Linked DNA regions of Homo sapiens. The protein of the gene in region 1 interacts with the protein of each later gene in a pairwise test. Each region holds a gene or a part of one and is shown in the gene's direction. Other genes may lie near its edges. The genes, in order: ARL4A, CCDC57, CCDC102B and SPATC1L.

Evidence for each region.
Region 2: the proteins of ARL4A (region 1) and CCDC57 interact in binary tests that used the Homo sapiens proteins (3 or more experiments, as listed by UniProt).
Region 3: the proteins of ARL4A (region 1) and CCDC102B interact in binary tests that used the Homo sapiens proteins (3 or more experiments, as listed by UniProt).
Region 4: the proteins of ARL4A (region 1) and SPATC1L interact in binary tests that used the Homo sapiens proteins (3 or more experiments, as listed by UniProt).

Annotation. Positions count from the first base shown.
Region 1 is NC_000007.14:12,683,637-12,690,633, forward strand, and holds the start of ARL4A (ADP-ribosylation factor-like protein 4A), read left to right. Parts: upstream 1-3,996; 5' UTR 3,997-4,092; intron 4,093-4,529; 5' UTR 4,530-4,618; coding exon 4,619-5,221; 3' UTR 5,222-6,997. UniProt on the Homo sapiens protein: Small GTP-binding protein which cycles between an inactive GDP-bound and an active GTP-bound form, and the rate of cycling is regulated by guanine nucleotide exchange factors (GEF) and GTPase-activating proteins (GAP).
Region 2 is NC_000017.11:82,209,822-82,217,415, reverse strand, and holds the start of CCDC57 (coiled-coil domain-containing protein 57), read left to right. Parts: upstream 1-4,573; 5' UTR 4,574-4,631; intron 4,632-7,594. UniProt on the Homo sapiens protein: Pleiotropic regulator of centriole duplication, mitosis, and ciliogenesis. Critical interface between centrosome and microtubule-mediated cellular processes. Centriole duplication protein required for recruitment of CEP63, CEP152, and PLK4 to the centrosome.
Region 3 is NC_000018.10:69,053,054-69,055,698, forward strand, and holds the end of CCDC102B (coiled-coil domain-containing protein 102B), read left to right. Parts: intron 1-976; coding exon 977-1,084; 3' UTR 1,085-2,136; downstream 2,137-2,645. UniProt on the Homo sapiens protein: During interphase, forms fibers at the proximal ends of centrioles to maintain centrosome cohesion. During mitosis, dissociates from the centrosome following phosphorylation to allow centrosome separation. Contributes to CROCC/rootletin filament formation.
Region 4 is NC_000021.9:46,181,453-46,189,057, reverse strand, and holds the start of SPATC1L (speriolin-like protein), read left to right. Parts: upstream 1-4,598; 5' UTR 4,599-4,702; intron 4,703-5,283; 5' UTR 5,284-6,241; coding exon 6,242-6,434; intron 6,435-7,605.

The DNA of each region.
Region 1 (6,997 bases):
ACAAGCATTAACAGGTGATTCTCATCATTAGCCAAGTTTGGAAAACCACAATTAAAGGTGAGGTTCGCAGAGGCCCTAGTGCCTCAGTACTTTTTCATGGTACCTCAGGCCAAAATAAATAGCCAACATTTCTATTTATGAAATTGATAGATCCAAACTTGATAGTTGTAGTTGTTAATATGGTCCAACAGATGTCACTGTGTTTCCCTCAAAAAGTTAAACTATCCCACAGAACCCCTAGGAATTCTGAGGCACCCCAGAGCACTATTTACAAGCTACAGGCCCTAAAGGGAATTTTTTTCTGGCATAGAATGTAAGTAAAAGCTCTGAATGGGCCTTCTATAAGATCAGGCAACAAAGTGAACCTTGTGTTCCACAAATTCCATTGCTTTTAATATCATTTGTTGCTGTTTTCATATGGTTTTTATATATAGAACAGGCACACCAAACATTTTTCTACAGAGGCAGAGAGCACATTTATTTTGTATGTGTGTGTTGTGGGGGGCATAGATGATCTTGATTGCATATTCTTTTCTTATCCATTCTCTTGCAGCCCTTTAAACTTGTAAAAACCATTCTTATCTCCTGAATTTGACCTACAGGCTGCAGTTTGCCAACCACTACTGTAGTTTTAAAACCTAGGGTATAACATTAAAGTGCAATTCAGTGAGGACGATTCTGCAAGATTGGAAGCCCTCAGTGTTTTTGTTTTCCTTTTTTCCCTTTTTGCTCCAGGGAAGACTGTGCAAGGAACACTGGAAGGACTTAGAGATTTCAAAACTACTGTAAACAGAGGGTGGCCACAGAATTTTCTTGCTCTAAATTCTTGACTTAAGGAGAATCTGCAAGTTATCCCAGTTTAATAAAGAATCCCTATTGAATTTCCAATAAAAGGAAATAGGTTATTGCACTAAGCCCTTTATCAATTATTAGCTGATTATGTGAATGGCTAATGAGATTTCACAATTATAACTAATCAGGCAATCCTTAGTTTATAATAGATTCATGTTTATAGAATATGCCATTTGATATTTCTAGCTCTTATTCCCAAAATTAGTGTGGCTGTCTTGAGATTATGCATTGTGCTCAGAACTTAGGTTTTTACGTCGTTTTTTGTTTTTGTTTTTGTTGTTTTTGAGACGGAGTTTCGCTCTTGTTGCCCAGGCTGGAGTGCAATGCCGCTATCTCGGCTCGGCAACCTCCGCCTCCCGGGCTCGAGCGATTCTCCTGCTTCAGTCTCCTGAGTAGCTGTGATTACAGGCGCCCGCCACCACGCCTGGCTAATTTTTTGTGTTTTTCGTAGAGATGGGGTTTCCCCACGTTGGCCAGGTTGGTCTCGACTTTTTAAAGAATCCGGTATGACAAGTATGCATGTTCCTGTGCTAGTCATAAAAGAAATAAATATCACTGGCAATAGCGGTCTTGAGAAAAACTAGGATATTTCTTGAGGAAACTCCAATCCATATTTAAAAAGAAAAAAAGCACACTTTTAAAAAAGTGTACCATATAGGTTCTTCCAAGTTACAGTCTTACAGCCTTCACCAAAAAGATGTTTGTCGATTAAAGCTTTCCTACAACTTCAAGTCATTACTTCTTTTGCAGGTTGTCATAAGCACCCTGAAATTACCGCTGAAAACATTTTATAAATTTAGTCATCCATAGAGACTCCAATATTCCACAAGGGCAGGGACAGTGTATTTTGCTCACCATTTTATCCCCAAGCACACAGAATTGTGTCTACTGCCTATTAGGTGTTCAATAAATATTTGTGAACTTATTGATCAAAGACAAAATTTAGTCAGAATCATCCAATGAAAAGCATTTTGCATTTGATGACTAGTAGACTTAGATGAACAGTTCCAGGACCACCACTAATTTTCCTTGGGTCATTAGAAACATCCCTTTGGGGCTGCGGAGAGAAAATCCAATCTGGCCGCTGCCCCACAGCCCCTTTCTGTTCTGCGCGTTTGCCTCGCCGTTCTGATGGAGGAGGAGGTGGAGGTGGAGGAGCAGCAGCGATTTTCTTAGCCATTTTCTTACCAACAGAGGCCAAAGGAGGCAGCAGTGGACTACACTGTGGGTTGTCTTTGCGAGGAAGTGGCATTGGGCAGAGATGCAGTTCAGCAAACTTATCATTGCAGCAATTTCGGAGCTGACTTTTCGACAGTGCAAGATCTAGAAATGTGTGCAAGACATGCGAAAACCACCACCATTAACACTGAAGATGTGAAGCTCTTAGCCAGAAGGAGTAATTCACCGCTAAAATACATTCAGACAAAAGTGAAGAGCTTGCGCAGATTAACCTAGAACGAAAGGCACAGAAGACAAAGAAGAGGATGGAAACAAAAATGCAAGGGAGCCAGCAGAGGCTGGAGTACAGGAAAGTTAAGAATTAAACTCTCCCGCTGCTTGGAAAATGCAGCTTTCTGCAGGTAGAGCCACCTAGTATGTATATGGCCACAAAGGGAATTTTGAAGGGATAAATAGAGATTAAAAAAAAAAAAAAGGCTAGATGGCTTTTTGTGTTGTATTTTCCAAGTCGTTAACTGCAAACGCTAGTTTTAAAGAGAACTGGACACTCAATCAAAATACTCCTGTCTCACTCCAGCACATACAAATGGTGTAGTTGAATGGTATATTGGAAATTATATCTATTGCAATTAAAATTGTGTGAGCAATTTGAAAGAAAAGAAAAAAAGAAACATCCCTTTCATCTTTCAGAGTGTATTTCCTTATGTGTCAAACTGGAATATTTCTATCTGTGGCCAGTTCCCCGGGATGCTGCTAGAAACACGTGAGACAGCGCGTTCATTTGCTCTACAAAAAGCGAATGAAGGCGCAGTTACCAGGCCAGTCAACCCAGGCTGTTTAAGGTCAACTACTGGGGGACTTCCACGTCACCTCGATATATACGTAACGCGTGTGTGCCGTAACCCGTGAACTATGGAATCCCTAACCGCGAATCACGTGGCTGCTGCCCCGCGGACGCCCTAGACGACGTGAGGGAAGGCGGTGCCGGGCGGGGCCTGTGCCAGGCTGGCGGGCCGCCGCAGACAGAGCTACCCGGAGCAACCGTTCAGGGGTGAGGCCGGAAGTCCCATCCGACCTCGCGGGCAGCCAGCGCTAGGCCGATTCGAACTCGACCTTGTTTTGGCGTTGCTAGGAGACGCGGCTCCTGCGCGCCCCCTACAGGCCGGCGCCCGGGCGGCGCGCGGGCAGGGGGCGGGGACTGTCGCGTGGAGCTGCCGGGCGAGCACCGTTAGGGCAGCCTGGCGCGCGGCGCCCGCCAGGCGCCCAGTCCTCTGCCATCGCCCACGCCTCCCTGGTGCCAGGGAACAGGTATCAGCGCGCCTCCCCAGCGGCTGGGAGAGACGCTGAATGAAGAAGAGGGAAGGACGGTTAGTCAGGTGAGCCGCGGCGGGGTGGGCGGCCGGGGCGGCCACGCCCTGCCGAGGGAGAAGAGCCGGTCGTGTGCGGAGGGACAGGGTGAAGGGATCCCACTTCGGGGAGGATGGGCTTATCCCGGCGGGCGCGCCAGGTGGGATCTCTAGCGCCTCAGGGGCCCGCGCGGCAACAGCCGGCACCCTCGGGCCCGCGGACAAAGGGTTAACGCGTTGGCAGTGACTGCGGGCCCCGGATGTGAGAGCCTTGGCTTGACGCCCTGGCTGCGCTGCAGGTGCGCCGGGCCGAACGGAGCCGGCAGCCTGGCGGCGACCTGACCGCCCGAGGCTCCCCTTCACCTGCAGCGGCTGCTCGGCTCCCTCTGGGAACGCCGCCTTTTCTAACTTAAGGGCAACAGGTGGTGCCGGTGGACCGAGAGAGAGCTCAGCTCCGCCGCGCTGGGAGCGGCAGTTACCCTCACCAATTAGGGAGCGGGGGCGGGAGTTGCATGGCTTCCCTGATGCGGGTGACCAATGGGATTTGGGATCATGAGTGGACCGGGAGGAGTGGGCGTGGTCGGAGTCTGAGTCCAAGGTTTCTCGTGCGGCAACTGCCAGAGCTGCTTGGAGAGCTAAGCTGGAAGGGTGCTTATCCCTGCGTAGAAACGCCTGCCAATGCTTTCTCATTTGGACCCAGACTCCAGATCGGGAGGTGAGAACGTTGTTATTTTGCAAGGGGTAGGAGGTAATAGTGATCTTGGGTATGCTGTTAAGCATGTGGAATTAGATTCCGAAGATAGGACTATCTGCTATGAGTTTTCTGCCAGATAGGCACTTTGTGGTTACGGCCACTTAGACCAGATACTGGTGACTGGGTTCTTTCCAGAATGAGGTCTTTGAGGTTTGGGGACCCAGGAGAAAAACGTACATATTACTGCAATTTAAGTAAACCAGATAATTTCAATCACTGTTATTCCATCGTTTGTCTTGGACTGTGTGTGTTTTCATGTACGTTTCATATCTCGTCTGGTTTGTTTAGCGCAGCAAGTTATAGTAAGTTCTTCGTGTTGTTTATTTTAGCAAAGTAGAGCAAACCTGTTTTAATGTATTATTTCGGGAGAATAACTTATTCCTTCTTCCGTCTCCCAGCAGTCTTATAGCTGGATCAGCTACCAAGAGAAGTTGTAAACCAAGAAGAGAAAAGCATTTCAATTTGGGACATTTATTTGCACCTGGAAATGGGGAATGGGCTGTCAGACCAGACTTCTATCCTGTCCAACCTGCCTTCATTTCAGTCTTTCCACATTGTTATTCTGGGTTTGGACTGTGCTGGAAAGACAACTGTCTTATACAGGCTGCAGTTCAATGAATTTGTAAATACCGTACCTACCAAAGGATTTAACACTGAGAAAATTAAGGTAACCTTGGGAAATTCTAAAACAGTCACTTTTCACTTCTGGGATGTAGGTGGTCAGGAGAAATTAAGGCCACTGTGGAAGTCATATACCAGATGCACAGATGGCATTGTATTTGTTGTGGACTCTGTTGATGTCGAAAGGATGGAAGAAGCCAAAACTGAACTTCACAAAATAACTAGGATATCAGAAAATCAGGGAGTCCCTGTACTTATAGTTGCTAACAAACAAGATTTGAGGAACTCATTGTCACTTTCAGAAATTGAGAAATTGTTAGCAATGGGTGAACTGAGCTCATCAACTCCTTGGCATTTGCAGCCTACCTGTGCAATCATAGGAGATGGCCTAAAGGAAGGACTTGAGAAACTACATGATATGATCATTAAAAGAAGAAAAATGTTGCGGCAACAGAAAAAGAAAAGATGAATATCAATACCTATTATATCTGTGTGGAGTAGGTTTTCTCTGGTCTGATTTTGACAAATAGAAGAGTGTCTACAGCGTGGTTTGCCTGTCTGCCCTCCTGGATGCTATTAAAGCTTTGTTTTGTTGAACAATCAGATGCCCAACTCTGTTGCCTTGTGGAAGATGAGTAAATGCAGTGCTTCTTAAAGTGGTCTCTTCTCCCTACCCCACAAATCTTTTGGTACTACCATTTGGGGAAGCCAAGCAAGGATAGTAAATTGACCAGAACACAGTTGTGGGAATTTGGTCTGAAGTTAGTGAAATAAAACTTTAAAGAGTGTCTGCCTAGTGTTTTGTGCTTACATCTTTCGGGGGGAAGCCTTTGCAAGAAAATTGCATACAAGGCTTTGTAACGATCAAGTGCTAATCGATGGAAATGTTAAGGTAGATTAACATATATGCAGTTATATTGATCACATTGGTCCAACCAGTCCTTTTTTGAAGTAAGGGACAAGGAGTAAGTATTTTCTTTTTTAAGTTTCTGCCAAATGATTTTTGACGCTTTCTGGAATCAAGTAATTTAATAGTATAGCTTAATTCTAGACAATGTTTAAGTTGGTCTACCTTTATTAAAAATAAGATATTTGGGGTATATTCAAGTGCATGGATTAGTTTTCCTGACAAAGCATGTTTTGGTGTGTAGTCTTACTTTTTAGAAATAGCTATGCATCGTTCTACACAGGTTTAAAACAACTTTTTTGGGGATTTAGGGCTATTATAGGAATAGTTTGTTGTCAGAAGCACTTTCACTTGAAGAACCTAAAATGATTGACTCATTCATAGTAAATATGGGCATGTAAACTAATAAATATGCACTGGATACATATATGGATTTATGAAGAAGGCGATTTAGTCAAGAGGATGTAATTAAAATATGTGGTCTCTAAAATATTCCAGTTACAAGATATTTGTTTTATTAATATTTGCTGGCTAAAAACAAATGTGGTTTTTATATATTTTTGTAGTGTGTTGAGAAGAGCAAAAGCTTTATAAATATACCTGATGCGCTGTAGAATGAAAATGTAAAAGATAACCTGTATGTGTTCCGAGCTTTAATTTTTTGTTTACAAATTGAACAGTGTTACATGGGCTGTCCAGTCCTGATTATAGAGAGGAAGAAATGGTAACAGTATGGCAGATAAGAATTACAATTATAGAAAATGAGGGGAAAATAACAAACCTGTTTTATGAAAATTCACTGGTGCTGTTTACATTGGAATAAAAAGCTCTATAAGGAGGAAAGGCCTTTATCTAATTCTTATCTACAGACACTTACTTCCAGTGACCATATTTTACTAAATCAGCTTATTTTTTATGTCTAAAGCAACAGCTGTTCTGAAAAATCACCAAAAGAAATGCACTTTGCTAGCAGGATTTGTTTTGGCTTTGGGTTTTGTTTTTTTGTTTTTTTTTTTTTTCAGTGGCATAACAGTTTTTGGAACCTTGATTCTTGTGTCACACAAAATGAATGAAGTAGCTTGATGTGGAGCCTTCATATGTTAAATATTCCTGCACTAGTGATGGTCACTTAGAATGTTTATAGAAATGTGGATAATAACTACCAATAAACTACTTGAGGCACTAGGAGAACAGTATTTGACTTTGAATTTTAATGTATTTCCACTTTTGCTGAAGCTTTTAATCAGATGTGTAAAAACAATTGACCAGCTAGGCTATTTAGTCCCATAGTAGTTCAGATCTGCTTAGATGTGACAGGCATTGAAGGCTGTTTTTTTT
Region 2 (7,594 bases), on another chromosome or scaffold:
GCTTGGAGCCCCCTTGGGTGCCCACCCACTGGGCAGCACGGCCTGTTCCACACCAGCCTCGAGGGAGCATCCCCTGGTCCTGCCCGTGTCCACACCAGGATCCCTGGCAGCACTGGCCCTGCCTCCAGGTCTTGACCTCCAGGAAGTGGCTGTGGTCACGGCCGCTGTGGGGCATGTCTGACGCCGCTGTCCGGCTCCTGGTCCCATCTGGACAGTGCCAGTCTTGCTGGTCTGTTCCTGGAGGGTCTTCCTGTCCAGAGGAGCCTCCCTGCCTCCAGCCCTCAGGCAGGAGTCAGTGCCCACCCCCCTCCTCCTGGAGCAGCCAGACACTGAGGCCCACTCACACCCACCAGGCCCTTTCATTTCTTGGCTCCTCTCTGGCCTCAGGACCTGGGAGCCAGGCAAATGGTGCCCATGGTCACCCTTTCAGCTGAGCCACACGCCCGGGTGCCCCAGGGACAGAGCAGGGCGTGCCACAGGCACTGGCCAGATCCAGATCGGAGCAGGGCCCGCCCACACCCACCGGGCCCTTTCATTTCTTGGCTCCTCTCCTGCCACAGGGCCTGTGAGCCAGACAGATGGAGAAGTTGCCTCTGCAAGTCTGACGTGGGCATTCCCCAAACCTGAGAGGAAGTGGCTTGCTCTGGCCCATGCAGGCTGGTGCCCAGGCGGGGGCCCCCGCACCTCTTGTCCTGGATCCCTGTGCTTTTAGGGCCCTGCAAGAGGCCTGGAGGCCTCAAGCAAGCAGCTTTTGGGGGCTCCCATGGTGAGGTCTGCCACCAAGGTCAGTCTGTGTTCTGGGAAGCAAGAGCCTCAGCCCACACTTACGCCCTCAGCCATGGCCTTCTGACCTTCCTCTCACCCTCCCTTGTTTACCCCACTCAGTGACATGCGGCTGCCTGACACCCAGATGTGTGTCTGGGTGGGTGGGGCATAGGTGCCAGGAACGCAGCTGGGAGCAGGACAGCCAGTTCCCCACCCACCTTGCTCTGCCACAGAGGCATGGGAGGGTCAGGTCCTGGCCGTGTCACTCACCGGGGCACCAGGAAGGGCCCTCGGCCTCCACTGTCGTGGCATGATGAGGGTGGTTGCAGGACGGCCTGGGGGAGCCAGCACTGGGGGCTGTCAGCCCCACACAGGTCCAGGGCTGAATGGTGGTCCCCAAAGAAATAGGATCCAGTCGTAGCCGCTGGTCCATTAGAATGCGGCTTGGGAATAGGGTCATCGCCGACGTAATTGGCTGGGTGGTCCTGCTCCAACGTGATGGCGTCCTAAGAAGGGCAGCACATGGAGACAGACACACAGGAGAAGCCGCATGATGGTGGATATAGGGGCGGGAGGGGGCGATGTGGCTGCAGCCAAGGGTGCCGAGGCTGGAAGGGTTAGGTGCCTGTGGTCCCAGCTACCTGAGGCCAAGGTGGGAAGGATTCTCCCATAGGGCTTTTGGAGGGGCCATGGCCCGGCCGACATCCTCAGCTTTCCTGAACTGGGAAAGAAGAAAGGACCAGTTTGGGGTTCTTTGTTTTGGCGGCCCAGGCCCTGGCTCACACCCTGTCTGCCTTCCACCTGTGAGTCCTGCTGGGTGCTGGAGGCCAGGAGTGAAGGGAATGTGGTCTCCCTCAGCCAACTCCCGGCCACCCGCACTGAGGGTGCCCAGGTGGAGCCCAGCTGGGGAGCTGGGCAGGGAAGGAGGGGGAGGGGTTCTGCAGTGTGGGGGGGGCAGGGAAGGAGGGGGAGGGGTGCTGCAGTGTGGGGGGCAGGGAAGGAAGGGGAGGGGTGCTGCAGTGCTGGGGGGATTCAGTAGGTGTAGCCTCGGGCCTGAGCTGACGGCGGGCGCTCTGGGACCGTGGAGCTCAACCCAACGGAACGGCCCTCGAATCAGAGCACAGGCTGTGAGGGCCAGACCGGCCTGCCCCACAGCTTCAGGAACCAGGCAGTGCCCGTGGCACACCCTGCTCTGTCCCTGGGGCACCCGGGCATGTGGCTCAGCTGAAGGGGTGACCATGGGTGCCATGCTGCTGACTTGGGCCAGCACACGATTCCAGGTCCAGATACCCATGACGTGACAAATGACCTGCTAGGGCCGCATAACTCAACACCACAGCCTGGGCGGCTTAAACGACATTTATTTTCTCACTTCCGGAGTCTGGATGTCAGGGATCAGGCTGCCGGCAGGGTGGGTTCCTCCTGAGGCCTCTCCATGGCTTGCAGACGGCACCCTCTCCCTGCGTCCTCATGTGGCCTCTCCTCTGTGTGCTCACTCCTGGTGTCTCTTCCTCTTCTTTTAAGGACAACAGTTCAGGGTCCCACCCTTAGGACTCACGTAACTTTAATTACCTTCTTAGAGGCCCTATCCATAACACATAGGTTTAGAGGGTTTTTTTTGGAGACAGGGTCTTGCTCTGTCACCCAGGCTGGAGTGCAGTGGCGCGATCATAGTTCACTGTGGCCTCGAAGTGCTGTGTTCAAGTGATCTTCCCACCTTGGCCTCAGGTAGCTGGGACCACAGGCATGTGCCATCACACCCGGTTAATTTAAAAAAATTTTTTTTGGCCAGGCATGATGACTCACACCTGTAATCACAGCACTTTGGGAGGCCGAGGCAGGCAGATCACTTGAGGTCAGGAGTTTGAGACCAGCCTGGCCAACATGGCAAAACCCCATCTCTACTAAAAATACAAAATTAGCTGGGCATGGTGGCAAGTGCCTGTAATCCCAGTTACTCAGGAAGCTGAGGCAGGAGAATCGCTTGAACCTGGGAGGCGGAGGCTGCAGTGAGCTGAGATCACGCCGCTGAACTACAGCCTGGGCAACAGAGCGAGACCCTGTCTCCCGAGCTCAAAGGATCCTCCCTTTGGCCTCCCAAGGTGCTGGGTTCACAGGTGTGAGCACTGTGCCCGGCCCACACATGGGTTCCCATAGATCCCACTTTACAGGCAGGGACACTGAGGCATGCAGAGCCGGGATACAGACCAAGCAAGTCCTGGCTCCTCTTCTGGGTGTCCCAGCCCGTCTCGGACACCCACGCTTACCCAGGCCTGGTGGCTGCATCGTGGACATGGGGGCAAGGCAGCTCTCTGGGTGGGCAGAGGCAGGAGCTGAGGCAAGGATGTGGGCATCCTTTTGGGTACATCTAGTCCTAGAGCTGATCCAGGGGCCAGTCAAATGTGCAGCCAAAGTCGGGTCAACCCCAGCACTGTCCTGTGGGTGGGGGTAGCAGGGAGCCAACAGTCCAGGCCCTACATCCTGTTCTAATAGAGTGACAAGTCTGATGAGGCTGGGGGTGCACAAGCACTGAGAAGGCAGCAGGACAGGGAGCCAAACACATGGGGTGGTGGGGGAAACCAGGGAGCTGGACACAGGGTGGGGGGGTCCTGGGAGTTGGACACATGGGCCAGGTTGGGGGTCCAGGGAGCTAGACACAGGGGGTGGGGAGGGGAGTCCAGGGGACTAGACACAGAGTGGGGGGTGGGTCCAGGGGGCTAGACACACAGTGTGGGGGGTGGGTCCAGGGAGCCGGACATACACATGGGGTGGGGAGGGGGCATCCAGGGAACCAAGTCTAGGCAGAGGCAACTGGCGCAAAGGACCTGAGGCAGAAGAGGGTTTGGTGTGTGAGGCGGGACTGAGGACTGTGGGCGAGGGAGACAGCTCTACCAGGACGCATGGTTCGGGGAGGACAGGCTGCAGGGTGCCTGGGCTGCAGGCACGGCACGGAGAGGAGTGATCCAGTGTTAACAATGTGGGTGGAGGATGACACCAGACCCCTGGCTTATTGCCCCACCAGGGGAATTCCCAGACACCAAACACCCCCTCCACTCCCACGCAGAATTGCGGGCTGAGGGTTCGGGTGAGCCAGGCTGCTCTGTCCCGGGGCCGGGCTCTGTTCATCCATCCGCAGATGGATACGGACACGTGCCTTTTTCTGAGGATGTGAATGGTTGGGAATGGCTGTGCCTGAGGATGTTGTTCCCACAGGATGGTGGGGGCGACTTCGGGCCTCGGTGGGTCCCGACCCCCCTCCTTCCCCCAGTTCCCTAATCAGGGTCTGAGCGACCGCGCGCACGGCCCCTGGGCCCCGCCGGTCTCCGAGCCCGTGGGCAGCGCCGGGAACTCGTGCCCCGGTGGCCGCAGCCGACCCTTAGGCAGGACTTCGTGGCGCCCCCGGCCCGAACAGACCCCCACGGGCAGCCTCGGCCGCCCCGTGCTCCCTTCATCTCAGGGCAAAAGCTCAAGTCAACCCTTCGGGACCGCGAGCCGGGCGGCCTCAGGAAGCGGGCGCCTGGGGACCCTCGGCCGGGCCGGGGGCGGCGAAGGTGGGGGCGCCTCGCGCGGCGGAACCCGCCGTCCCCATAGCCCGGAGCCCCGTCCGGAGTCGCCCCGCTGACCGGTGAGGAGGCCGGGCTCCCTCCTTCGATCTGCGGCGGTGGTCGGGTCGGCCGGGGCGCCCCTCGGACCCGGGCGCAGCGCGGAACCCGGCGGGGCGGGAGGGGCCGGAACCTAGCGCCAGGGACCCCGTTTCCTGTCGGCGGGACCCGAGCGCTGCACCGAGCGCAGCCGGACGCGGCCGACTGACCCGGTCGCTGTGGCAACGCGGCGGGACCTGGCCAGCGCTGCTGGCGGGCGTTAGGGTGAGGTGCGGGCGGGCGGCGTGGGAGGCGTGGGAGGCGTGGGGGGCGCCGCTCCGACCACTCTTCCTGTAGAAAACCCCAGCAGCTGCCGTCCTGTCGGACGCAGCGCTTTGGTGGGGACCTGGAGCGCGAGGTCGACCCTCAGAGCTCGGCCAGGCCCGGACCGGGGATCCCCTCGCGGAGGCTGCGGCGGGGCGGGGCGGGGGTTGCGGCCGCGTGGAGCGGGAGCGTTCCCTCGGTCTCCCGTGGGTGACCTGGGGCGGTGGGCGCTGCCGACCAGGGCCCCGCAGCCCCGGGAGAATTCCCCGGGTTCCGCCGCCGGCAAGGACGGCTCCGCGCCCAGGCAGCCTTACAGTGTCTGTGAGTTTAAAAAAAAAAAAAAAAAAAGAGAGGAAAAAAAAAGGCCGGAGGCGGTGGTTCGCGCCTGTAATCCAGCACTTTGGGAGGCAGAGGCGGGCAGATTGCTTGAGGCCCGGAGTTCGAGACCAGCCTGGCCAACATGGTGAAACCCCCTCTCTACTAAAAATACAAAAATTATTGGGCGTGGTGGTGCACGCCTGTAATCCCAGCTACTCCGGAGGCTGAAGCAGGAGAATCGCTTGAACCCGATGTTGTAACTGAGGGAGTTATAGAGAGAACGCCACACTCTGAGACTACTCAGGAGTCCTGTATTGCCAGCGACTGACAGACTGCTAGAGCTGCAAATTCCCTCGGCCCCGAAGAAGGGGCTAGATTTCTTTTGATACCTTGGTCTAAATAGAGGAGGGGAGGCTAGCTGAAGCGATTTTTTTACAGAAGCAGAATAGGCAAAAAGTTAAAAGATAAATGGTTACAGAAACAGTTACAGGAAAATAAACAGTTCCAGGTACAGGGGCTTAAATTATCACAAAGTGATAAACGCAGGGGCTTTGGGTACCATCAACCGAGCGCGTTCCCAGGAGCTGCTGGTACAGCTTGCTCCAGTTTCTTATCAGTATTTTATCAGTAAGCGCATTCCTGGATGTGCTTGGAGTCAGCTTGCCCCAGTTATGTCCTTAAGGGACGGGGACAAGGGGCTGCAAGCGAAGAAACCAAAATGGTGTCTGTCCGGCCCTCTCAGCTAAGAGAGAGTCAGTCAGGTTAAAACAAAGTAGGGTACCACACCGAGAGGCGCAGGTTGCGGAGAGCCAAGATCGCGCCATTGCACTCCAGTCTGGGAGACAAGAGCGAAACTCGGTCTCAAAAAAAAAAAAAATTATCTGTAACTTAGAAAAAGGATACAAAAGGAGCACAGATTTCCCGTGTGCCTTTTGCCCAGAGCCCCTAGAATGCTGACCTCTTAGAGAACCACAGTTCATTCAGCAACATGTAGACGCTGGCGTTCATGTTGGTATCATCCCATGATCTGGTCTCCAGTATTTATTCTTGCTTAGCAGCTACCTCATGGATGACTTTACCGTGGTCCAGGATCCAATGATGAGTCCACTATTTTATAAAATGCCCCCCAGTTCGGGGGCATTTCTCTGATGTTTTGTCATAATTGATTTCATATTACTGATTTTTGGCAAGAAAACCTCAACAGGGAAATTGTGCCCTTCCCAGCGTCTTACGAGACACAGGATGCCCCTGGCTGTTGGTGCTAGTCACGTCCTGGGGGCTGAGGTGGTGTCTGCCAAGTGTGTCCATAAAGTTAGGGTCCTTCCCTTTGTAAATAATAAATATTTTGTGGGGAAATATCTTGCCACTATGTAAAAGATGATGTTTCTTTCTTTCTCTCTTTTTCTTTTTTTTTTTTCTTTTTTTTTTTTTTTTAAGACGGAGTCTCTCTTTGCCGCCCAGGCTGGAGTTCAGTGGCGCGATCTCGGCCCACTGCAACCTCTGCCTCCTGGGTTGAAGTGATTCTCCTGCCTCAGCCTCTCAAGTAGCTGGGATTACAGCCGCCCACCACCACCCCCAGCTAATCTGTGTATTTTTAGTAGAGACGAGGTTTCGTCATGTTGGCCAGGCTGGTCTCAAACTTCTGACCTCAGGTGATCCACCACCTTGGCCTCCCAAAGTGCTAGGATTACAGGTGTGAGCCACCGTGCCCGGCCTTTTTTTTTTTTTAATTAATTTTATTTTTTTGAGACTGAGTCTCTCTCTCTCTCGCCCAAGCTGGAGTGCAGTGGCTTGATCTCGGCTCACTGCAACCTCTGCCTCCCGGGTTCAAGTGATTGTCCTGCCTCAGCCTCCTGAGCAGCTGGGATTACCAGCGCCTGCCACCATGCCCGGCTATTTTTTTTTTTTTTGTATTTTTAGTAGAGACGGGGTTTCACCATGTTGGTCAGGCTGGTCTCGAACTGCTGACCCCAAGTGATCCGCCCGCCTTGGCCTCCGAAAGTGCTGGGATTACAGGCCTGAGCCACAACGCCCAGCAAGATCTTGTTTCTAACCATACTTCTGTCACTAATTTTAGCACCCATGAGTGTTTCCCCAAAATAACTGTTAATGTGCTATTTGTTAAATGATTTTTCTGTTTCCATTACTCCTACATTTATTAGTTGGGATTTTCCTATAAGAAAGAACCATCTCTTCCCAGGCTGGCTTGCAGGGGCGCGGTCTCGGTGTTAGTGCATCTTTTTATTCCATGGATTCTAACCCATCGCTATCACGTACTTTGTTGCTCACATTATCCAGATTGAGGTGTTAGGAGCCCCTTCAAGTTGGCCTCTCTGTCCTTATAGCACGTCCCAACCTTCTGGGAGCATTTTCTTTCTTTCTGGCATCACAGAATTCAGGCTTATCTTATGCTTGCCTTGACATATCCCAGAATCAGTCATTTCTCCAAGGAGCCCTGGTTCCTTTTAGTTTAGAAGGTAGTGTTTAGAAACCAAGATCCCAGTACCAGATAGACATATTGCTACTGGGATGCCATTTCTTCTTGGCTTTCTTAATGGATAGAGTAGGAAACGTGTTTCTATACACTATACACATGCAAATCTATT
Region 3 (2,645 bases), on another chromosome or scaffold:
AAGGGACCCAGTATATATGAATGTTCAGAGCATCACAGGGCTGGAGACAATATAAATACTCATGGAAAGGAGGGTAGGTATATATGTCATGGCATAGTAATGCAGTGCTATAATAGAGAGGACAAAGAGACCACAGATGAAACATTACTGTAGATGAGTCTTAGCTGTTGGATTTAAAAAGCAAGAATATTACATATAGCATGAAATACCTTTTTTAATTAAAACAATTAAAATGATACATTTTCAATAATATATATAAATATATTTCACATATATATATATATACACTTAGCATATGTATATGTGAATATGTATACATACACGTGTATTTTGTTCAAAGCCATGGGAATAAAAAACACAAGTTATAGTTCAGTGACTTATAGCTAGGGGAGGCAAGAGGGGAAATGGGAGAAGAGTGGCTACATAGAAAGGATTTTGTCAAATATTTCAGAGATCATTTTGAGGTTTATTACTGAATATGTACATTAACTCTATTAAAATAAATGAATATTTTCATTTATTCATGCACATATACAAAAGAAACTCACACATACACTACTGGTAAGTTACTGTCATACAAACATATACCTTGTTTTTAAAGAGTTACTTTATTTCAACTACTTTTTTTTTTCATTAAGAGCTTTTCTTATTAAGATGGAGATAGAAAGCTGTGTCTTATATAGAATGGATCCTCATGTTTTTCAATTTAAATTTTATTTTTAAATTGACAAGTAAAATTTGTACATATTTATGATATACAACATGATGTTTTTCTAAATGTGTACATTGTAGACTAGCTAATCAAGCTACTTAATATATGTACTATTTCAAATACTTATAGTTTTGTGGTGAGAATACTTACAATCTATTCTCTTAGCAATTTTTAAGAATATGATAAGATGTTATTTACTATAGCCACCATGATGTACTATAGAACACTTGAACCTAACTAAAGCATTTTCTACTTCGCTTTCAGCTTGATGATTCCCTGAATCAGATCCGTAAGCTCCAGAGGTCTCTGGATGAAGAGAAAGAAAGAAATGAAAACTTAGAGACTGAACTCAGGCACTTGCAAAACTGGTAATTTTTTCACAAAATATGCTGAATTAAAGATTAGGGCCTTAAAGACATTTCCATATCCTTTTCTTAAATATCAGTAAAATTGTTTTTATTAACTAGAAATATTAATGAAAAAAACGTAGACAATACACAAATTAATGGGCTTCTTCACTTCTTCTAATTTTTGCCTAACAGATACTGCATATTCTCAAAAAGACAATTTAAATGTCATTTAAAAACAACTTTAATTCTAAGATGTGTAAATATTTTGAAAGTCAAAAAGGGCTTTCAGAATACTTTTTACATAAAATCTGAAAGAGTTATAATATCGGTAAGAAAAAGTAAGTTGAAAACCATACAAGACGCTGGGTCATTAATAAGAAAACCATTGACTTTAAGTATAAAGTACTGGTTTGTTTAAATAATTGGTAAACTTTTATGTACGTGTTGTCTATGTGGTGGGGATGGCAGGTTGTATTAACAAAAATGAATCATTCTAGAGGTGTAACAATACATTTCTTATATAATTTTATAAGTCATTTCTAATCTTTGTATAAAACAGAAGTGAGCAGATGAATCAGAAAAAAGTGTTTTGTATTTTAAAGTAACAGATAACCAGTGATTGAATCTAAGACAGGCTGTAAGCATCGCTGAGAAACTAAAAGGACTTTTGACTTTTATCTGGATAGACATTTCTACAGTAAAATCATGGAAAGGCATCAGCATTGCAAAGTAGCATCTAGGTAGAAATCAGGCCAAAATTAAGCTGTGGTTTCCCTCTGAGTAGTGGGAATAGAGAAAATTAGGAAATTGTGGTTATGTGAATATTTCTTTAAAACTTTTATGTACATTATAGTTTATTGCTTCATATTTAAGTTTAGTTTTTAAGGTAAAATGTTATTTTGAACAAAAAGACACTTATAATTTTCCATACCTATTTTCAACTGAAGGCAACTTGTAAGATTTAACTCAGTCAATAACATACTGGTTTTACTCATCTCCCCCTCCATTGATTAGCCAAAAAAAAATGAAATCTTACTAATTCATTATTGAATAAAGACCACTTTTATCAGAGTCTCTCATTGTAAAAGCCTTTGTCATTCACTGAGTCTTCACTTTTTCCCTGTTTCTCTCCCAAACATGGGGGATTGTATGACTAATAGGAACGCAGCACTGAGGGGCAAAGAGGCCCGATCTTCAAGTGCGCACTGGTGTGTGTTTGCTAGGCTGTGTAGTAATGAAATCTATCTTGTCGCTGGGTACTCTTGCTGGGTTCTGATGCTTAAATGTGAACTTCCTTCTCTTTGCTTAACACTCCTCCTGTGAACTGGATCCATCTCAGTGCTTTCTGGTATGACCTCCTCTATCCCATCATATCCCCTGTCAACCAACTGACTGAGCAATTCATCCAGATGGAGCCTTGAGGATGGGCCGCAGGTCAAGGTCTCATCTCAGTCACAATCCCATATGAGAACCAAATACAGTTTGGAGAAGCTAAATATTAGGGTTCCCCTTGCCTGACCATGTTTCTCTGCTTTTCTGTGGCTGTGCCCCAAGTGGGTGTGGGGCAACTGGCAAGGCGTCTT
Region 4 (7,605 bases), on another chromosome or scaffold:
GTCACCTGCCTGTGGGGCGAGTGGGAGGCCCAGCCTGGTTTAGGGAACAAGAGTGACGTGAGGAGTAGCAGGGTGCGTCTCCAGTTACCTGAGGGAAAACAGATATTTTAAGAGATAATAGCATAGCCTATTTTAATATGTTTTAAAGGCCATAAGCATATCCAGGAAGATAAATAAACGTGATACAATGTCCACATAGGAGGAACTTTCTTTCACTGCATTGTTTTCCTTCACAGTGGCCTTCAAGTCACAGGACGCAGCGATTCCCTGCCCTCTTCGGTGTTATTACACAGGCAGGACTTCAGTGTCAGTATCCCTGCCTTCAGTCTTCTTTAGAAATCACATCTGTGTTCAATCCATTGTTTAGAGGGAGTGTATTTTTCCTGTTCCACGAAGAGGACTTTTTGTTCACAATTGGATCACAATGCAGAGGAGTCTGTTCCTCCCCCGTCGGCTTCTCGGTGCTGGGAGGGTGACCTGTCCCAGATGACTCATCACCCTGACATGCTCTTGACAAAGGACACCACCAAGAGGAGATGGCAGCTGTACCGGTGCAGCCTCTGTCTGAGGGGGATATTTGCCTCAGTGTGATTAAAAATCAGTCATGAAAGATTTTTGAATTCAGATTATTTTTATCAGGAACAGATTTTGAACATCCTGAAATCTTTTCCCTGGCATCATATTAGGTTTTCTTTGTTCACTATGATGTAAAGTTTCAGACTCTTGATATTTTTAATATCAACATAGACGGTAGGACAAGGAACGGTACCAGAAATGAGTAAAGAGACAATAATGATAAGATCGATTTATCAAGACATAACAACCCCAAATGTATATGCACTAAATAACAGCTTCAAAATACATGAAGCAAAATGGCAGAATTGAAGAGAATGAGATAAAAACAGAATTTTAACGGGTGCTTTCCGTACTTTGTAACTGACAGACATGAGATCTGTAAGGACAGAGATTTGAACATCAGCCAACACAAGCGAGCGGTCTTTAGAGGATGCTTCACCTAACACTGCTGAAGCACACGGCTTTGCAAGAGCTCGTGGCCCATGTGCTAAGGTAGACCACAGCTGGCTCACCAGGTGAGTCTCAGTATGTTAGCAAGGACGGAAGTCACACACAGCATCCTCCCCCACCACAGTGGAGTTAAACTGAATTGAAAATCAGTGGCAAAGGAGCAAAGGCAGTTCAATGGAGAAAGGACAGCCTTCAACAAATGCTGAAACAAACTCCATTTGTAAAAAAAAAATGAACCTTGACATACCCTTCACATCTAGACATACTCAAGATCAATCAGAGACCTAAATGTAAAACAAAACTATAAAACCCCTAGAACATCACATAGGAGGAAATCTAGGTGACCTTGGGTTTGGCAGTAACTCTTTAGATATGACACCAAAGGCATGATCCTCGAAAGAAAACATTAATAGGTTGGGCTTCATTAAAATAATACATTTCTGGCTCATGCCTGTAGTCCCAGCACTTTGAGGGGCCAAGGTGGGAGGGTCACTTGGGCTCAGGAGTTGGAGACCAGCCTGGATAACAGTGAAACCCCATCTGTACAAAACAGTCAGAAGATTAGGCAGGTGTGGTGGTGCGTGCCCGTTGTCCCAGCTACTCGGAACACTGAGGTGGGAGGATTGCTTGAGCCTGGGAGGCCGAGGCTACAGTGAACTGTGGTTGCGCGGCTGTGCTCTTAACTTGCGTGACAAAGTGAGACCCTGTCTCAATAAAATAATTAATGAAACTGAAACTTTCTGCTCTGCAAAGAATGTCAAGAAAATGAAAAGACAAGTCAGAGACTGGGAGAATATATTTGAAAAAGACAAAGGATCAGTATCCAAAAGAGCTCTTCAAACCCAACAATAAAACAACCTGGTTAAAAAATGGGCTGAAGGGGCCGGGTGCGGTGGCTCACGCCTGTAATCCCAGCACTTTGGGAGGCCGAGGTGGGCGGATCACAAGGTCAGGAGATAAAGACCATCCTGGCTAACACGGTGAAACCCCGTCTCTACTAAAAATAAAAAAAATTAGCCGGGCACGGTGGCAGGCGCCTGTAGTCCCAGCTACTCGGGAGGCTGAGGCAGGAGAATGGCGTGAACCCGGGAGGCAGAGCTTGCAGTGAGCCGAGATTGTGCCACTGCACTCCAGCCTGGGTGACAGAGAGAGACTTCGTCTCAAAAAAGACAAAAAAGAAATCAAACAAACAAAAGTGGCTGTGCCAATTTGCATTCCCACCAACAATGAGTTCCTGTTACTCCACGTCCTCAGCAGCATTTGGTGGTGGCAGTGTTCTGGATTTTGGCCACTCTAAAAGGTATATTGGTAGTTTTAATCTGCATTCCCCTGATGACATATGATGTGGAACATCTTTTCATATGCTTATTTAACAACTGTGTATCTTCTTTGGTGCGGTGTCTGTTAAGGTCTTCAGCCTTTTCTTTTTTTTTTGATACGGAGTCTCGCTCTTTCGCCCAGGCCGGAGTGCAGTGGCGCGATCTTGGCTCACTGCAAGCTCTGCCTCCCGGGTTCACGCCATTCTCCTGCCTCAGCCTCCTGAGTAGCTGGGACTATAGGCGTAGCGAAACTGCTCTGGCCTGACACTGTGATGGTGGATACAGGTCATTATACATTTGTCCAAAGCCAGAGAATGTGCAGCATCAAGAGTGAGCCCCATTGTAAACTGTGGGCTTTGGGTGGTGACGATGTGTCCATGTAGATTCATCAGCTGTAACAAATGGACCACTCTGGGACTGAGTGTGGGTGTGCGCGCCTGTAATCCCAGCTGCTTGGGAGGCTGAGGCAGGAGGATCTCTTGAGCCCAGGCATTTGAGGCTGCAGTGAGCCGTGATCATGCCACTTGCCCTTCAGCCTGGGCAATAGAGCAAGACCTTGTCTCAAAAAAGTACCACTTTGCTGCAGGACGTTTCAAAAATATTCTCCCAGTCTCTGACTTGTCTTTTCATTTTCTTGACATTCTTTGCAGAGCAGAAAGTTTCAGTTTCATTAATTAAAGTATTTTATTGAGACAGGGTCTCACTTTGTCACGCAAGTTAGAGCACAGCCGCGCAACCACAGTTCACTGTAGCCTCGACCTCCCAGGCTCAAGCAATCCTCCCACCTCAGTGTTCCGAGTAGCTGGGACAACAGACACGCACCACCACATCTGCCTAATCTTCTGACTGTTTTCTACAGATGGGGTGTCCTTCTCTTTTGATAACTTTGGTAGGGTTTGTCCATTTCCTGTGGTTGTGGAGCACGGGCATCAAGCTTTAACTACACCCCACAAATTCTAATGTCATGTTTTTATTCTCATTCAACTTGAAATATTCTCTGGTTTCCTTCGTGCTTTTGTCTTTTTCAAGACTTTTTTAAGAGGAGTTTTAGGTTCTTAGCAAAATTGAGAGGAAGATAGAGAGATTTCCCCACTCGCTGCCCCAACAAATGCACAGCCTCCCCTATTATCAACAAACTACCTGACAGCCACAATTGTCAGCAAAACGCACATGAGGGAAAAATATAAAATATAAGTAGCGTTGTATCTATTTAAGAAATTGATTTAGAAATTTAAAACTTTTCCAGAAGAAATCTAGTTCTAGATAGCTTCACAGATGAATTCTATCCGACGTTTAAGAAGGAACACCCAGAAAATGGCGCAGAATCTCTGCGGCTCATTTTAAAAGGCCAGTGTTCCAAAGCCAGACCGAGACATCACAAGAAAAGGAGATTCAGATCGACTTCCCCTGTGAGCATAAAAATACTTAAAATATTAATAAATTGAATCCAGCGCTATATTAAAAGGATAATGTGTCAAGACCAGAAAACTGTCAGAATGTTGATAGGTCCGTGGCTGGAGAGTACCTGACGTCAAGAGAAGGTTTCCTTGGAGCGGGAGGAAGACGGCATTTAAAATATGATGGGAGGAGCCAGGGCAGGAAAAGCCATTCAGGGCCCCGTCGGGCTCAGAGCGGGGGGCGCATCCGTGACTCATCCCTCGCTTCTCTCTCTGCCCTGCATCCTGGACGCCCTGCATGCCCTCGTCAGTGGGCTGTGGCTGGGCCCCCGTTGTCTTGATCTGAGGTGTGAGCCCTGTGGTGCAACACCAGGCTGGTTGGGTTGTGTCAGGAACGCTTGGGGTGTAGAAACCTCCTTTCTCCACAAAGCCTGACTCAAGACTTTCTCTCCTAGAAGCAACCTTCCCCTAATCTGGCCGCCCGGGCTGAATGAAGGTGGTGTTCTCCCAGGGGCATCTGCACCTGAGTGCCCTTGGTGGTCCTGAGTGCCCGTCACAGGGCTGGAGGTGTGGCCGGCCCACTGGGATGGTGGTGGTGGTGGGTGCCCATCACAGGGCTGGAGGTGTGGCCGGCCCACTGGGTTGGTGGTGGTGGGTGCCCGTCACAGGGCTGGAGGTGTGGCCGGCCCACTGGGTTGGTGGTGGTGGGTGCCCGTCACAGGGCTGGAGGTGTGGCCGGCCCACTGGGTTGGTGGTGGTGGGTGCCCGTCACAGGGCTGGAGGTGTGGCCGGCCCACTGGGTTGGTGGTGGTGGGTGCCCGTCACAGGGCTGGAGGTGTGGCCGGCCCACTGGGTTGTGCTTTCTGCCGTACGTCCCTTCCCATGAGGATGAGATGACCCATCTGTTGCATCCCGGCTGCTGATAAAACAAGACCCTCGGAGCCAAGAAACAACACTGAGGTGATTTACTTTCCCAAGTAATTGAAGCAGGGAGTCAGGGTGGGTTTCAAGTCGGTCGCACTGACTGAGGACAGACGCCTGCTCTAGCAGGGCCCCATGAGCCGCAGCCCTGTGTGACGGCCCGAGGGGCCGTGGCCATGGGTTGGGGGCGTCCTCAGTTACGTGCAGGCAGGAGCAGTGCAGTCAGGAACAATTGGTGTCTTAGACACGGGCGCTCGTGGTCTGAGGGGTGGACATGCACTGCTGGACCCTTCTCATCAGGGAGTGAGGTCAGTAGGTGGCCTCCAGCCCAGCCCTCAGGGCCACCCAGTGCTCCAAAGCATGTGGGGGCCATCGTGGGGCTGCCTCAGGCTGGTCTCCCCACCCTAGGCTGGTCTCCCCCGCAAGACTGGTCTCCTCCCCCAGGCTGGTCTCCCCCACAAGGCTGGTCTCCTCCCCCAGGCTGGTCTCCTCACCAGGCTGGTCTCCTCCCCCAGGCTGATCTCCCCGCCCAGGCTGGTCTCCCCCGCAGGCTGGTCTCCCCCGCAAGCTGGTCTCCTCCCCCAGGCTGGTCTCCTCACCAGGCTGGTCTCCTCCCCCAGGCTGATCTCCCCGCCCAGGCTGGTCTCCCCCGCAGGCTGGTCTCCCCCGCAAGCTGGTCTCCTCCCCCAGGCTGGTCTCCTCACCAGGCTGGTCTCCTCCCCCAGGCTGATCTCCCCGCCCAGGCTGGTCTCCCCCGCAGGCTGGTCTCCCCCACAAGGCTGGTCTCCTCCCCCAGGCTGGTCTCCTCACCAGGCTGGTCTCCTCCCCCAGGCTGATCTCCCCGCCCAGGCTGGTCTCCCCCGCAGGCTGGTCTCCCCCGCAAGCTGGTCTCCCCTGCAGGCTGGTCTCCTCCCCAGGCTGGTCTCCCCCGCAGACTGGTCTCCCCCACAAGCTGGTCTCCCCACCAGGCTGGTCTCCCCCACATGCTGGTCTCCTCCCACTGCCCTTGCCAGTCCCTCCCTCCTCAAGTGTGGGTGCCAAGGACGGACCCTGATGAACACCTGCACATCAGTTGCTGCCCTGGGTGCCAGGGTCCACAGGAAGCTGCACTGGGAACCCTGTGTCCTGGGCAGGTCCTATGGGAAGTGCAGCCCACATGTTACTCGGGTGAAGGCAGCGTCCCCACCCAGCTTGAGGACACCACACAGGGTGGACACCCGACCCTGGCTGGGCCGCTCAATGGGGAGTGGCTTGGACGCCCCTCTTGGAGTACAGTCGCTACATCCCGTAGCTGCCTAATGTCCTTGGCATTCTCGGGCCCTGGTCATAATGTGGGAGTGGCTGCCTGTGCACGCCACGGGCCTCCAGCTTCACTGCCTCAACGGGGCCATGAGCCATCGCGGGGGCAGGCAGGGTGCTGGGCACCTCATCACTAGGGCAGTGACATCACAAGGCGTGGAAGGCGGTGGTGGCTACGGAACTCCGTGCCTGGGCTGTTTCTGTGGTGCCTGCGGGCTCTGGGCTCCCACCTCCATGGGGCTGCAGGAGCCGTGAGGGACAAGGAGGGACGCACCCGCCATGGCTGAAGGCGGCGAGCTGATGAGCCGGCTCCTGAGCGAGAACGCGGACCTGAAGAAGCAGGTGCGCCTCCTGAAGGAGAATCAGATGCTGCGGCGGCTGCTCAGCCAGAGCTGCCAGGAGGGCGGCGGCCACGACCTGCTCCCACCCAGGGCGCATGCCTACCCTGAGGCCGGCTCCCCCGGGAGCGGAGGTGAGGCGCCGCCCAGCTCAGATGGCCTGGTAGATGAGGGGGTCGCGGGACGCCTGCTCCCCGGGAGTCGAGGGTGGCGGCCAGCTCCCTGATGCGGGAGGTCACGGGCACCTTTCACACCCTCAGGTCTGAGTAAAGCAAGACCAGGTGGTGGGTTCTGCTGTTGCCCTCAGGTGAGGCCCCTCCCCTCCCCTTCGGTCGCTGGCGAAGTGGGAGTGGTCAACCGCTGGCAGGTGGACTGGTCAGCTGCAGTCATGGAAGTGTCCCCATAGGGGTAGAGCAGGTGGCGCGCAGGCTTGTGGGCCTCCAGGGCCCCAGGCAGCTCTTCCAGGCTGGTCCTGGCTGGCAGTTTGCTCTGCTGCATGTGTCTCTTCTCCTGGGTCAGGGGCGAGGGGGGTGTCAGACCAGCCACACGAGTCCCATGAGTGCTGTGTCCCATCCACTCATGTCCCCGGCCAGAGCCAGGCCAGCCCCATGGTGGGAAGGTCCCACCCTGGGGAGGCCTCAGAGCCACCGGCCAGGGGAGCAGGTAGGGACAAGTGGGCGCCTGTCCCTGCGGGGCTGGGAGTGTGGAGCCATGATCCACTCACCACATAGCATTGACTCCGACCTTCTGTGGCTTTTTACTGAAAAAAGTATATATATAGGGTTTGGTCACTTTCTGCAAAGTAGTAGGCTTTATTCTAAAAGGTTTGGGAAAAACATTACCCGTTCCTGCATGTGATTTGGGGTGGGGCTGACAGATGTACCCTTGACTTTTTGTTGGGATGGTGGGCAGAGGACAGAGTCCCTGACCCAGCACTGCCTGGGATTCCCACGGCCAACCTCAGCTTCCCACCGGGCCGGGCCCGGAAAGGACGTGGTCAGCCTGCCTGGTCCTGGACGATGGAGCAGGCAGCCTCGCCAGTGCCCGTGAACACTGCTGTCTGCGAGCACGAGCCATGCCCGGGAGGCCAGCTCTGCCACTCACCAAGGGGCCGCTCCAGCACCTGTGCTGGGGGTGGGGGAGGTTGCTTCCTGAGTCCTTCTCAAACGCTGGCCACCACCCTCAGATGTGCACTCTGAGCAGGCGCAGTGTGCAGGAGGCACTCTCCGCAGCCAGGCCCCAGGCCCTGCTCGGAGCTCCATGGACAAGCCTGAGAGCGAGCGTGTCTGGAAGCAAAGAGGGGAA